Linked DNA regions of Homo sapiens. The protein of the gene in region 1 purifies or fractionates together with the protein of each later gene. This does not show direct contact. Each region holds a gene or a part of one and is shown on either strand. Other genes may lie near its edges.

The links.
Region 2: the proteins of GRK5 (region 1) and NFIB purify together in Homo sapiens (affinity purification with mass spectrometry, with the first as the bait; one large-scale study listed by BioGRID). This does not show direct contact.
Region 3: the proteins of GRK5 (region 1) and GOT1L1 purify together in Homo sapiens (affinity purification with mass spectrometry, with the first as the bait; one large-scale study listed by BioGRID). This does not show direct contact.
Region 4: the proteins of GRK5 (region 1) and DHX15 purify together in Homo sapiens (affinity purification with mass spectrometry, with the first as the bait; one large-scale study listed by BioGRID). This does not show direct contact.

Annotation. Positions count from the first base shown.
Region 1 is NC_000010.11:119,214,071-119,217,570, forward strand, and holds part of GRK5 (G protein-coupled receptor kinase 5), read left to right. Parts: intron 1-3,500. UniProt on the Homo sapiens protein: Serine/threonine kinase that phosphorylates preferentially the activated forms of a variety of G-protein-coupled receptors (GPCRs).
Region 2 is NC_000009.12:14,307,642-14,311,141, reverse strand, and holds part of NFIB (nuclear factor 1 B-type), read left to right. Parts: intron 1-3,106; exon of another isoform or gene 3,107-3,219; coding exon of another isoform or gene 3,220-3,234; intron 3,235-3,500.
Region 3 is NC_000008.11:37,933,781-37,937,124, forward strand, and holds the end of GOT1L1 (putative aspartate aminotransferase, cytoplasmic 2), read right to left. Parts: intron 3,278-3,344; coding exon 3,185-3,277; intron 3,091-3,184; coding exon 2,940-3,090; intron 2,090-2,939; coding exon 1,924-2,089; intron 1,675-1,923; exon of another isoform or gene 1,520-1,674; intron 1,436-1,519; coding exon 1,293-1,435; intron 707-1,292; coding exon 513-706; 3' UTR 501-512; downstream 1-500.
Region 4 is NC_000004.12:24,578,055-24,581,554, reverse strand, and holds part of DHX15 (ATP-dependent RNA helicase DHX15), read left to right. Parts: intron 1-3,500.

The DNA.
Region 1 (3,500 bases):
TTCAAGCGATTCTCCTGCCTCAGCCTCCTGAGTAGCTGGGATTACAGGCGCCCACCATCAAGCCTGGCTAATTTTTGTATTTTTAGTAGAGGCGGGGTTTCGCCATGTTGGCCAGGCTGGTCTCAAACTCCTGGCCTCAGGTGATCTGCCTGCCTTGGCCTCTCAAAGTGCTGGGATTACAGGCATGAGCCACTGCACTCAGTCTCTTTTGATGTTTTTTAACTGATCAACTAGGTGTGAACAGAACTGGATTTTTTTCCCCGAAGAGCTGAGGCTGACTGGGGTGTGACCTCCTTAGCTGTGTAGACTGCATTGACTCTACTGTGCCTAGAATTTGGACAATGGCCTGAGGGACCAGTATGTGATTTAAGCATAATTAAAAGGTTATACTTGAGGGATAGACCTGAATCTGGAAGACAACTGCTAATTTTCTGGGGCACTGAGGGGTTTTTGTTTTGTTTTGTTTTTTGAGACAGGGTCTTGCTGTCACCCAGTCTGTAGTGCAGTGGTGCCATCTCAGCTCACTGCAACTTCGACCTCCTGGGCTCAAGTGATCCTCCCACCTCAGCCTCCTGAGTAGCTGGGACTATAGGCTCGTGCCAACATGCCTGGCTAATTTTTGTATTTTTTGTAGAGATGGGGTTTCGCCCTGTTGCCCAGGTTGGTCTCTAAACTCCTGGGCTCAAGCAATCCATCCACCTTGGCCTCCCAAAATGTTGGGACTACAGGTGTGAGCCACCACGCCCGGCCAACACTGTTTTTATGAAGGTCTGTTCCTAGAAATGGAAACCATTAAAAACAATGGCAAGAAGACCCTTTGGTTGAGGAATGACAAGATCCAAGAGGAAAACTGGTGTGCCATGGCGCCTTCCAGGCAGAGCAGGTGTTCAGGGCAGAGGCCTGGGCGGGTAGACGGGCTGCAGTTCTGGAGTGAAGACGGTGGAGGCTGCATTCTTTTCTGGCTTTCTGTTGGGATTGGCCTGGGTATGTCCTTTGACATAGCCTGTCACAGGGAATGACCGAAAAGATTAAAGGTACCTGTTCCTCTTCAGGGGCTCTGTTCAACGTAGTAGCCACTAGCTGTATGTTGTTATTTATACTTAAATTAATTAAAGTTAGGAATTATGTTCCTGAAGCATGCAAACCACATGTCTAGTGCTCAGTAGCCATGTGTGGCTAGTGGCCATTGTATTGGGCCATGCATATAGAACATTCCCATCATTGCAGAAAGCTCATCGGGACAGAGCTTCTCTAGAGGATTCTGTGCATTTAGTGAGTGTGATAACCCCATGACTTCTGACATGAAAAATTAGGGAAAATTAAAAGAAGCAGAGGGAGGCAGGGAGTTGGGGAGAGAGACAGTGTGGAGGAGGGGGAGAAGGAGAGATGAGAGGGGGAAATGGGTAGGAGAAGGAGAAAATAGGGAAGGGGGTGCGGAGAGTGAGGAAGAGACTGAGGAAGGGGAGGGGGCTGCACCATGGAGGAGGGGTGAAGGCAGGGGTTGGGAGTTGGGACTGACTCACCTAAGAGGAAATTCAGGTCAGGGACAATCATGGATGGTGGCGGGGGTGGAGGGGGTTAAGCTACCATATCCTCCCCCACCCCCTTTTTCAATATCTTGTTGGGAAATTTGCCTAAATTGAGCAACTGACTTTCCTGATTCAAATTAAGTGCATGATATAGATACATACAGAGCCCCATGTTCCTTCTTGAAATTCTTAATGTGGGGCTATTTTAAAGCAGTCATTTTATTTAAAAAAACAATTAAGTTGCATAAGTGCGGCAGATCTACAGAAAGAATAGAAAGAAACCTCCACAGGCAGGTGATCTAAAATGGGGGTGAAGACAGGCAAAACCATTTTAAGGGTTTTCATTTTTTCTGAGCTGGGAAGACATCAGGAAGAAGGTATACTTAAAGATGCCAAAGAAACTCACTGTTCTTGTATCCACTTGAAAATGGTTTTCTCCTTAAAAACTGTTTCTTGTGAGATTTGAAACATTTTAACAATAACTCAGAGCACACTTAGAAAGAAAGTGTTTGAAACAATAAAACAGTTCATTGCTTGTTCCCTGGTGTCCGAAGCAAGGGAGTCTATCTGACGTACCAGAGTCAACTGGTGACATCCTCCTAAACTAGGCCAGTTTTGATAGGGCCTACTGTGTTTCTAAGAACTTGTAATCTGTGGAATATCAAAAATTTTTTTAAAAAGGTAATGATGAAATGAACCCCAAGGACAGCTTCTGGGGCCTGTGCAGAAAGCAAGGGTAAACAGATAAGCTGAGATAAACAGATAAGAACATGCCTCTGTCCTGAAGTGGCAGAGGCCACAGGGCCACTGGTGCCTCGGCTTCCCTGAGCCTTCTCAGCTGATCTGCTGCCCTGTCCTCTGTTTCCGGCATAGAGGTTACCCTTGGTTTAACGGATGGGGAAACTGAGATGAAAGAAAGGGAGTCAGGGCCGGGTGCAGTGGCTCACGCCTGTAATCCCAGCATTTTGGGAGGCTGAGGCAGGAGGATTGCTTGAGGCCAGGAGTTCAAGACCAGCGTGGGCAGCATAGCAAGACCCCTATCTCTACAAAAAATAAAAAATAAATAAAAATGGCCAGGCGTGGTGGCTCACGCCTGTAATCCCAGCACTTTGGGAGGCCAAGGTGTGTGGATCACTTGCGGTCAGGAGTTCAAGATCAGCCTGACCACCGTGGTGAAAACCCATCTCTACTAAAAATACAAAATTACCTGGATGTGGTGGTGGGTGCCTATAATAATCCCAGCTACTTGGGAGACTGAGGCAGGAGAATTGTTTGAACCTGGGAGTGCCACTGCACTCCAGCCTGGGTAACAGCGAAACTCCGTCTAAAAGGTAAAATAATAATTTAAAAAAAAACATAAAAATAAAAAAAGGGAGTCACTTGTTCAAGGTCACTTGAACTGTGGACTTTTGGGGAGCAATTGCAAGTGGATCTCCCCTATCCTCCAAAGTGCTTTTATGTTCCAAAATAAATCTTTCTTCCTTCCTCTCATAATATATGCCAAAACAACAAACTCTTCTCGAGATGGTAGGGTTTTTAAGTGTAAATACCCATGAGGTTGTAATTGTGGAAGAGAAAGAGTGTCTTTGTCAGATTCCCTGGGAAAAGGGGCAAATTGGGAATATAATTTCTGTCTCAGACCGTGATTTCAGCTGAGGGCCAGTTTGAGAGCAGTTGGGTAAATTAATTCCTACTAGGTTGTAAATGACTGATAGGTGAATCCTCAAAGTAGATGTTTCCATTTTAAAAGTAGAACTGTGTATCAATACAACTGAATCTGTGTTTGAGGACAAGGCAGGATGCCTACATGCCATACATAAGTGCCTGTACACACATAAGCACATGTGTACGTATGTGGTATGATCGCCTGTGGAGGCCCATTACCTGTACTCTCTCGCTGCCTGGGCCCCTCCTACCAACACATCGGACAAGCGAGGCCAGCCTCTTGCGTTATTTTTCCCCTCAGCATGG
Region 2 (3,500 bases), on another chromosome or scaffold:
ATATCAATAACCAATATTTATACACCAGTATAAATCAGATATAAAGGAAAAATTAAGAACTATCATATGATTTAATATATGTTTAAAAATAATGTAAACCATTAATAATATAACTTTCAATTGGCATGATGGCATTAAATATATTTTTCTTTCGTTGCTTTTAAGTTCTTTAGGTACATTTTTTGCATGATTTGTTGTTATATAGCAATGCGCCAAGAGCACCTAGTATTTACTCTTCTACCTCTATGTTGGTCTAAATTATCCATCCCTTTCATGGAAACGGAAGAAAAATAAATATGCCTAGTGGAATTAAGACTCTTTATTTTTATATCTGAAATTGGTAACTTTGTTATTTACTTTGTCAATTTAGTTCAACTAAAGGAAGTTTTAAAAGAGAATTACTGAACATCAATGCATTTTACTAAAAATTCTGAAAGAGCAAAGTTGCCTATTACCTTTGTATACAGTTGTTTGGTTTTAAATCACTTATATGTTTTGCTTTTTTTAAAGAATTTATGATTGCTTAATGCTATTGTAATAATCCACTACTAGTTAGGATATTTGAAAACCTTAATCACCTTTTAAAAAAATATTTTTGTATCAGGACAGTTATTATGTTCCATATTCATGTCACTCATAATCTTTAAGACTCTAGTGTTACTCAGCATTAGGAAACAGTCACACTTGGGAGATGACATTTAGGCATGTTAATACAGAAATATATGCGACTTACAGCAAACCTCAATTTACAGTCATTTTTGGAGGATATGTCCCCTTGTCAAATAAGTGCTTCACTTGAATTCACATAATAGTGAAACCCTGAACGATATCAATAAGGCAAACTGGCAGCCTGAGAAAGTTTGCTACTTTTATTTCTCAAAAAAAAGAGCATGTTTTAAAACAATATTGGCAGCATTGACAGCAAAGTCAAAGGAACGTTTAAAAACTGTGTGCATTTGCTAAGAATTTTCAAATTCAACCTTCAAATTTGAATTTTGGTTGTTTAAAATAACTCATTAAAATTTTGAGCTTTCTTGTGTGATAGATTATATTTATAATCAAATATTGAAACTCAAATTTAATCAAAACTGTGTTTGATGTCTTTATAAGAAAATGAAATGTCACTGAACATAGTACTTAAGGTGTAAGTACTTACGTGTTACCACATGGCTTAATATTTATAAAATAATATTGCATTTTAAAAAGCATGGCAAGGGTAAAATGAGTGAGACAGAGCCCACCCACTCCACCTCATGTGCTCTTTACATTCTCAAGGTTTTAGTTTTGTGAGTGCATATATGTGTGTTTTTTAGTCATATCAATAAATCGTAGTAAAAGATTATAGGAAGTGAGTTTCCAAAGCACATTTAAGTCCACATTTCCTTGAGCAGGCTTTCCTTTTGCATATATTCCTAAAGGGGATAAACAAAGTTTTTGTAGTTACAGTGAAAGCTAAAAGCATGGCATCAGAAAGTGTATGGAGATAGGGAGGTCTTATCATGGGATGTGGTTGCTGTGAGCAGGGCTGCCTTCCCACACAAAGAACAGATTGTGGTTTAACTCTTTCCATGGCCTAGTTTAATGTGCTCGCATAGTAACTGAATTGTTCAAATCTCTGCTGGAAACTACTGATCGGTTTAATGATTTCCTCTATGGCATTTGGGTATGCCTCATGCTGTGATGTAATCATCAGCATTCTGTATTGTTATAAAATTTTGATTCATACTTATTCTGGTGAAGGAACACTTACAGCAATGTTAGAACACTTGATAACTACATTATTGATTGGATGGGACATGTACTCCTTCCATATCTGAAGTGCAAACAGCTAACATGTTGCAGTCTGTAGCATTAAAACTTCGAATTTCTTCTTCAAAATGTATTCATATCTATATTGGATTTTTGACACCTTCTTTGTTAAAGAGTCATTAGTTGTACTTTCATCATATTTACCTAATGGAATTAATTAGTCAGTCTGCTGTTAAATAGAATTTATTCCACGTAGTTCAGGGTGATTAACATGAGTATGTAAATTCTAACTTGGGATACAATCAGAGAGTTATTTTGTCGTTGGGCTGACAGTATAGTCAATATGATCAGAAAAGTGGTGGTGGTGGAAGTTCTCATTTGCTTCAAATCTTGGCTTATTGCGTACATGCGGTGTGCATGTACAGGACGTTAAGCTCTTTCTCTTTGAACAGTAATAGGCCTAAGCTTATAAGACAGGTTTTACCTAAATCAGGAAGTAACGAAACTGACTGCACTGGGAAGTAACTTGAAATATCTGTAGGTAAAGATTATCCACCATTCCTCACTGATCCCCTCCCTTAAAAAAAGGGCTTGGATGAAACAGGCAGGAAAAATGCAGGAGCCTAAAGGTAAACTACTTAATTCAAAAGATTGGTACTCTATAATCTATGTATCTGCAAATTCACATGCACATGCATATATGCACCCACAGTTCTAACTGATAATTCATCTACATGGCAAATGAATTGTATAGATTCCACAAAAGCAGTAACTGACCAGCAGTGTCACCCCACCACAGCATGCAGAGACACAAAGAATGTAAAGTTGGTGCCAAGTTGCCATTTTTCATTGTTCACCTCAGATTGATTTTTAAGAGGTTTAGAATAATTGCTATACTCATGTGATCGGTGAACAAATTAACGGACTCTGTGGGGCTGCATATTCTATAGGGAAGCTGATGGAAGAACATTCATGTAATTTTTGTTTTCCAGTTTGAAAACTTCTATTTAAAAATGCAAGAGTGTGTGTGAGAAAGCAGGAGAGTGCAAGTGTGTGTGTGTGTGTGTTGGGAGCTGGCGTTGGTAGTGTGGGGAGAGAATGCACTGCTCAAAGTATGGAAACCTTCTGTTCAGGACACTGATACGACGAGCTGTGTCCTTTGCCCACTTTCCCTCACTGTATACCGGTTTCTCTAGTTACCACTTTTGGAATGGTGCTGTTTCAGTGTTGGAATGTTGGACGTTTGATAAGAAAATGGATCAAGTTTAATGGCGCATGCTCTTTGTGCCACCAGCAGCCTCTTGCTGAGAGCATGCTCCAAAAGCGGGAACTGTGTGGCATTACACTGAGCATCTATATGCTTTGTGTTTCTGTGCCACAGAGAAGAGAAATGAACTGTGGCATCGCTCCTGCCTTCTGAACAGCTCTACTCCGATTAAAAAAAAAAAATCTCACTGTGTTCTTTGTAAAATGGTACTGCATAGTGTTAGTTGGTCAATCAAATATTGAAATACTATATTAGGTGCCAAGCACCTTAGTTAGTTGCCTATATTTTAAAGAATGTAGAATGCATGGCATTGGGGTGGAAACAAGGGGGATGGGGCCAGAGTGTAATACAAAATATAAACCTTATTTCCTTTATAGGAGGGAGAATTGACCTGTGAATTTTGGTGGAAAGGGGACAGCTGGGCATACTTTACTTTCTTCTTGTCCTGTTATTTTGATAATTTTAAATAAGAAAGGAATGTTAT
Region 3 (3,344 bases), on another chromosome or scaffold:
GTTGTTATTGACCTAGGATATCCTTCCAGCTTCTATTAGTTATTATTCATCCAATCCATTCATCTGTCTATCAATATCCCAATCAAGTGCTACCTCCTCATGAGATGCTCCCCATCTATTCTGGCCCACTTTGACGTATTTCTTTTCTAAATTCCTGGCACATTTTCTGTTTATATATTCTGACTTCTGTCACATTCAGCCTTAAAATGTTACTTAAGTGTTTTATGTGACTAAGGCTTGTCTCCCAACTAGACTGTAAGTGTCTGGAGAAAACAGGCTGGTTTCTACCTGTTTTTTGTACTCCCTTTCACGGCCAGCTCAGGGCCTTAATGTAGTAGGTGCTCAATAAATATGAGATGGCCAATGAAGGTAGATACACCCTTCCCCTCTGGGCCTTTCTCTCTCTCTTTCTCTCTGTCTCTTTCTCTGTACTGAGGCCAGACCACTGCTTCATAAATAAGCAAAGAAATGAATTGTAGTAATGAATAATCAGCACAAGATTTTTGCAAAGACTAAAGTTTTATTCCAATCAGTGTTTTTTTTTCCTTTGGAAGACACATCTCTGAGCTCTCTGTGAGGAGGACAGCCTCATTGATGCCCTCAGTGATGTAATTTATGTTGTTGGCATTGATACAGCTGAAGTTAATCTGACCGTTCTTGGGGATATAGATGTGCTTCTTCCTGACCAGGTATTCCACCTGCTGGGCTAAAATCATGACAAGGTCTCAGATCTCGAGACTGGCCATCTCGAATTCTCCTCTAGCCCAGGCTGGTTTATTTTCTTATTTTTTTATTGATTGATTGATTGAGATGGAGTTTTGCTCTTGTTGCCCAGGCTGGAGTTCAATGGTGCAATCTTGGCTCACTGCAACCTTCGCCTCCCAGGTTCAAGCGATTCTCCTGCCTCAACCTCCCAAGTAGCTATGATTACAGGATGCACCACCATGCACGGCTAATTTTCATATTTTATTTTTTAGTAGAGACGGGGTTTCACCATGTTGGCCAGGCTGGTCTCGAACTCCTGACCTCAGGTGACCCACCCGCCTCGGCCTCTCAAAGTGTTGGGATTACAGGCATGAGCCACTGCACCGGGCACCCAGGCTGGTTTATGAAGGATAGGGAGTGTCGGTACTTCTGGGGGTCCAGAAGTGTCTTTAAAGCAGCCCATTTTCCAGAGGACAGAATCAAAATCTGGAGTGAAGCTAGGAACTGGTCACCTAGTCAGTGAAGTTTAATGCTCAAATACAGGCCAAAGGTCAGAAAGGGGGGACACCAGCCCCCTAGACCCTTACAGTTGAGTCCAAGATAGCCGTGGGTCCCACTCTGCTCGGTGATGTGACCCCAGGACCCAGGGGTTCCCAGGAGCTGGAGTTTCTCCTTCACTTTTTCCTTGGTTAGCATGATGTTCTCTACAACTTCTTTTAGACTCTGCTTCCTACCAAGGAAGGACAATGAGAAAGGAGGGTGTGAGGTCCCCCTTGCCCTCAAACCTCCCTCATTGCCAGTCCACTCTTCTTACCTTCAAAGGTCTCCAACAGAGTGCCAGAGGCTCTGGGATGATTATGAGTGGGAGGGAGGTTTGATCTCATATTCATTTAAGCAAACCAGGGAGGCTCCCAGGCAGATTTTGCCAGAGTTGCAAGCCCCTGATGCTCTCTTATCTCCCCAAGCAATCTGGAAGAGTTCATATAACTCATTGGCCTGGGTGCAAAACAAATGTCCTATCACTCTGTCCCCTAAGGCAACCCTTGGCATAGCCACCGCCATTGGTACACATCAGGTCCTTAGTAAATGTTGATGAATGAATGGAGTAAAAAGGCCACATGGGCAGGAGAGAAGCACCCTGCCGAATCCTGCAGATCAGCAGGTCTGCAGGCACCCAGGGCCTCTCCCATCCCTTCCTGCTCCAGCCCTCACCCTTACCATTCTCCCAGCAGAGCAGGGTTGCAGAGGATGGAGGTGATGACACGTGCACCCGTGTTGGGGGGGTTTAGCCACAGGGCCTGGGCTAATCCTTCCAGCTGGGAGAGGACACACAGCAGCTGCTGGTTGTTGACTGCCACCACCACTAGCATCCCCACTCCTTCATCTGCAGTGTTGGGAAGACAGCCTCAGCCTCAGCCCCTTCCTCCACTCCCAAGGCCTTCACCTAGATCTCAACCCCCAACCTTGCAGAAGAAAGGGTTGAACCACAAGGCCCTCATTGCAGCCCAGCCAGGGTGATATTCAGGCTCCGGGAAGTTGCCAGAGGCTCTCCTTCCAGCAAAAGTACCCATAAGTCAGAGTCTTAAAGGAGGAAGGAATTTGAAAGATCACTAAGTTCTACTCTCCTGTTTTTTCCTTTCCTTTCCTTTTTTATTTTTATTTTTATTTTTATTTGTTTAAAGTGACCATCTCTCTCTGTTGCCCAGGCTAGAGTGCAATGGTGGAATCATAGCTCACTGCAACCTCTACCTCCTGGGCTTAAGCAATCCTCCTGCCTCAGCCCCCCGGGTGGGTAGGACTACTGGTGTGTACCACCATGCCCGACTAATTTTTTTAATTGTTTGTAGAGACCGGGTCTCGGTGTGTTGCCCAGGCTGGTCTTGAATTCCTGGCCTCAAGTGATCACCTAACCTTGACCTCCCAAAGGAGGGATTAGGAGGTGTCAACTGGGATTACAGGTGTCACCCACCATGCCAGCCCCACCCTCTCATCTTATAGTTGAGGAAACAGAGGCCTGAGGGGGTGAAATGATCCAAGCCAAGCTGGGTTGGGTTCTGTTACTAGATTTAGTAACAGAACCAAATTCTAGCTCAGTGCTCCCCACTTCTGCTTCTATAGTGCTCTCCCTAGAGTCCTTGGCTCCCTCCCAAGGATGAGATATCAAAAACATCACTGTGCTGTGAGCGCAGCACCACTTCAGCAACAGACCCTCCCTTCTTCTGCCTGTACCATACCATAAATGCCAAAATTCTTGGACAGAGACTGGCTGCAGAAGAACTCAAAGCCTTGAGACACAAAGTATTGTAAGATTCTAGTATCTTCTTCCAAGTCACTGGTGTATAAACCTTGACAGGGAATATCAAAAAATGGGAATATCTGCTTGCTCTGTAGGAGAAAGGAGAACAAAAAAAGAATGAGACAGATGGAGGAGAGAGCAGAGAGTCAAAGACAGGAAGGTCGGGTGGGAGATTGGGTTTACCTTTATCATGGACATCAACTTTGCCCACCCACTTGGTGTCAACTTGCAGTCGATAATGTTCCCCATCACAAGGACACAGCCATGTGGGATCTGCTGCAGGTACAGACGGTCTCATCAGGCTTCACCCCCACCCAGGAGTGGCGGCCCCAGGGCATTTGGG
Region 4 (3,500 bases), on another chromosome or scaffold:
TACTCAAAGGTTTAAAGAAGGCATTCCCTAAAATCTTCATCTCCATCTTTGGATAACAGTTTTTGGTGAACATTTTCTAAGATCTCTGCATATTGACTCAAAAATATGAACTATAAAATTTAATATCAGTGGGATCAACGCGTGTTATTTTGTACTTTGATTTTTTTTTCCACTCAGAAATGTCATTAACTGTAGGTACACATTACGCTTTTAAATTGGCTGCCATAGGCCGGGCGCAATGGCTCACGCCTGTAATCCCAGCACTTTGGGAGGCCGAGGCGGGTGGATCACGAGGTCAGGAGATCAAGACCATCCTGGCTAACACGGTGAAACCCTGTCTCTACTAAAAATACAAAAAATTAGCCGGGTGTGGTGGCGGGCACCTGTAGTCCCAGCTACTCTGGGAGGCTGAGGAAGAATGGTATGAACCCGGGAGGCGGAGCTTGCAGTGAGCCGAGATTGTGCCACTGCACTCCAGCCTGGGCAACAGAGCGAGCCTCCATCTCAAAAAAAAAAAAATAATAAAAAATAAATAGATTGACTGCCATAGTACTCCAGTTGTAAAGGTATGACATCACTTATTTAACCAATATCCTGTTCATTGATATTTAGGTAGTTTTCCACTTGTTGCTATTTTATAAATGAGAAGTTTGATGAACATCCTTATACATACGTATTTGCACACATCCTTGAGAGGTTCCTGGAAATAAGATTGACGGATAAAAAGCAGTGCTTATTGCCGGGTGTGATGGCTCACACCTGTAATCACAGCACTTTGGGAGGCCTAGGCGAATGGATCACCTGAGGTCAGGAGTTCAAGACCAGCCTGGCCAAGGTAATAAAACCTATTTTTGTCTCTGTTAAAAATACAAAAATACACTGGGCATGGTGGCGCACTGCTGTAATCCCAGCTACTTACTCCGGAGGCTGAGGCAGGAGAATTGCTTGAACCTGGGAGGCAGAGGTTGCAGTGAGTCGAGATTGCACCACTACACTCCAGCCTGGGTAACAGAGGTAGACTGTCTTTAAAAAAAAAAAAAAAAAGCAATGCTTATTTAAAATATCATGATTTTGATGACCAGTTAATGTCTTCCTTAGCAGTACTTCAGTGCCTGTTATTATTCCATGTAGAATTTTTTTATTTTTTAGAGACAGGGTCTTCCTCTGTTTCCCAGGCTGGAGTGCACTGGTGTGATCATGGCTCACTGCAGTCTCAAATTCCAGGGCTCAAGTGATCTTCCCGTCTCAGCCTCCCAGGTAGCTGGGACTACAGGCGTGCCACCCCACCTAGCTAAGTTTAAAATTTTTTTGTAGAGATGGGGTCTCACTGTATTGCTCAGGCTGGTCTCAAACTTTTGGCCTCTGGTGATCCTCCCACTTGGGCCTCCCAAAGCACTGGGATTACATGCGTGAGTCACTAGGTCTTGCCCTCCATGTAGAATTTTAACATGGTATTAGAACTTAAAAAGATCTTTAATAATAACCAATATTGGTGGGGCGCGGTGGCTCATGCCAGTAATCCCAGCACTTTGGGAGGCCGAGGCAGTCAGATCATGAGGTCAAGAGATTGAAACCATCCTGGCCAACATGGTGAAACCTCGTCTCTACTAAAAATACAAAAATTAACTGGGTGTGGCAGCATGTGCCTGTAGTCCCAGCTACTCTGGAGGCTGAGGCAGGAGAATCGCTTGAAACAGGGAGGCAGAGGTTGCAGTGAGCTGAGATTGCACCACTGCACTCCAGCCTGGTGACAGAGCAAGACTCCGTCTCAAAATAATAGTAATAATAACAACAACAACCGATATTGGGCATTTGCAATGTGCCAGACAACACTTAAAGCACATCACATATATTAACTCATTTAATCCTATCTATACTCTACAAAACATATTGATAGCCACATCTTATAGGTGAGGGAAGAAATAACTGTGATCCTATAGTTGGCTTAAGTCTTGAGCCAAGATTGAACTGAGACACAGTACAGAGCAGTATGTTCAACAACTGTGTCATGTCATACCTCCCTCCCTGCTCGTGGTGTGGCTGTGTCTGAAGCACTGACTTGATACCAGTTTTTAAAAACCCTTATACTTCAACTAGTAAACTTTTAAGAACAAAACTCCTTTATAATAAAAAGTATCTTTTAAAAAAGAAAACACGCATGTGCACAATAGTTGACAAATATTTATGAAGTGGAGGGTTTGATTTTCCCCTTTTACTCACCTTTCATTTGTACTCCCTCTCTCATCGAAGGAAGGTAGTTTGAGCCATAAGCAACATTTCCAGGTGTCTGAATTTGCCTCCTGCATCCTCCCTGTTTTCTTACTTTAATCTGAGACTAAAAGTATCTGAAAATGCTCTTCATTTTGCAGATCAGTAAATTGAGGCAGTGTCTTGCAATGGTGATTCCAGCATTCCTTTTATCTTAATACCACAGCTGTCGCCATTGCTTGATCAGCAGCTAACCTTTTATCTTTAGAATGTATTTTATACATCCTTTGTTTGGTTTGGTAATGAAGCATCTGATGAAGTGGGCCCCTGAAAAAATCTTTGTTAGTATAGGTATTACTTTAACAAACTAAGGCAATATATAATACATGATTTACTTTGTCACCTCTCTTCCCCCAAATTTTGTAACTCTTGACCATGTCTTAATTGCCTGGTACTATGCTAGAAGTATAGAAATCATTAAACTAGGCTGGGCATGGTAGCTCATCGGTAATCCCAGCACGTTGGGAGGCTGAAGCAAGAGATTGCTTGATCCCAGGAGTTGAAAACCATCCTGGGCAACATGGTGAGACCCTTATCTCTACAAAAATAAGAAATTAGCGAGGCGTGGTGGTGCATGCCTGTAGTCCCAGTTACTCGGGAGGCTGAGGTGAGAGGACCACTTGAACCCAGAAGTTTGATATTGCAGTGAGCCATGATCCAGTGAGCCACTGCACTCCAACCCGGGTAATGGAGCAAGATCCTATCTCAAAAAAAAGGAAGTTGTTTCAATTATATTTTTTGTCATCTCCTCCTTCCCCCATGGTTGAGTGAATACTAGAAACATGAATCCTTTTTGTTCAGACCAGATGTTCTTTAAGAGTTCTTTTCTAGCTGTATGATCCATGATCTTTAAGGTGTCAAGTATTTGAACCATTTGTGAGTACAGTGCTTCTTACTTTGCTGGGCACATTTCTGTGTACTCTTATTATAAACTACACCTCGTTGGCATTTTGGAGCAATGTAAACACTTAATTAACAGTCACCTTAGGCCAGAAGCAGGAGAAGCAAAGATAGTTGATGGCATATTTCAGAAGATAGGTCCAGACTCTCAAGTATTGAATTGTGAGACTTCATTTTATGTTTATTAAGTTATCCTTTGACTTTTCTTTCCCATTGATTTTCTTTCTGTTTATGCCAGGTGAAATGAGAGGCTTCATACAGTTCTGGCTTGTATGCTCTGTGATTTTTGTAGAAGGTGAACATTGGGATGGAAGAGGGGAAAATCACTTTTC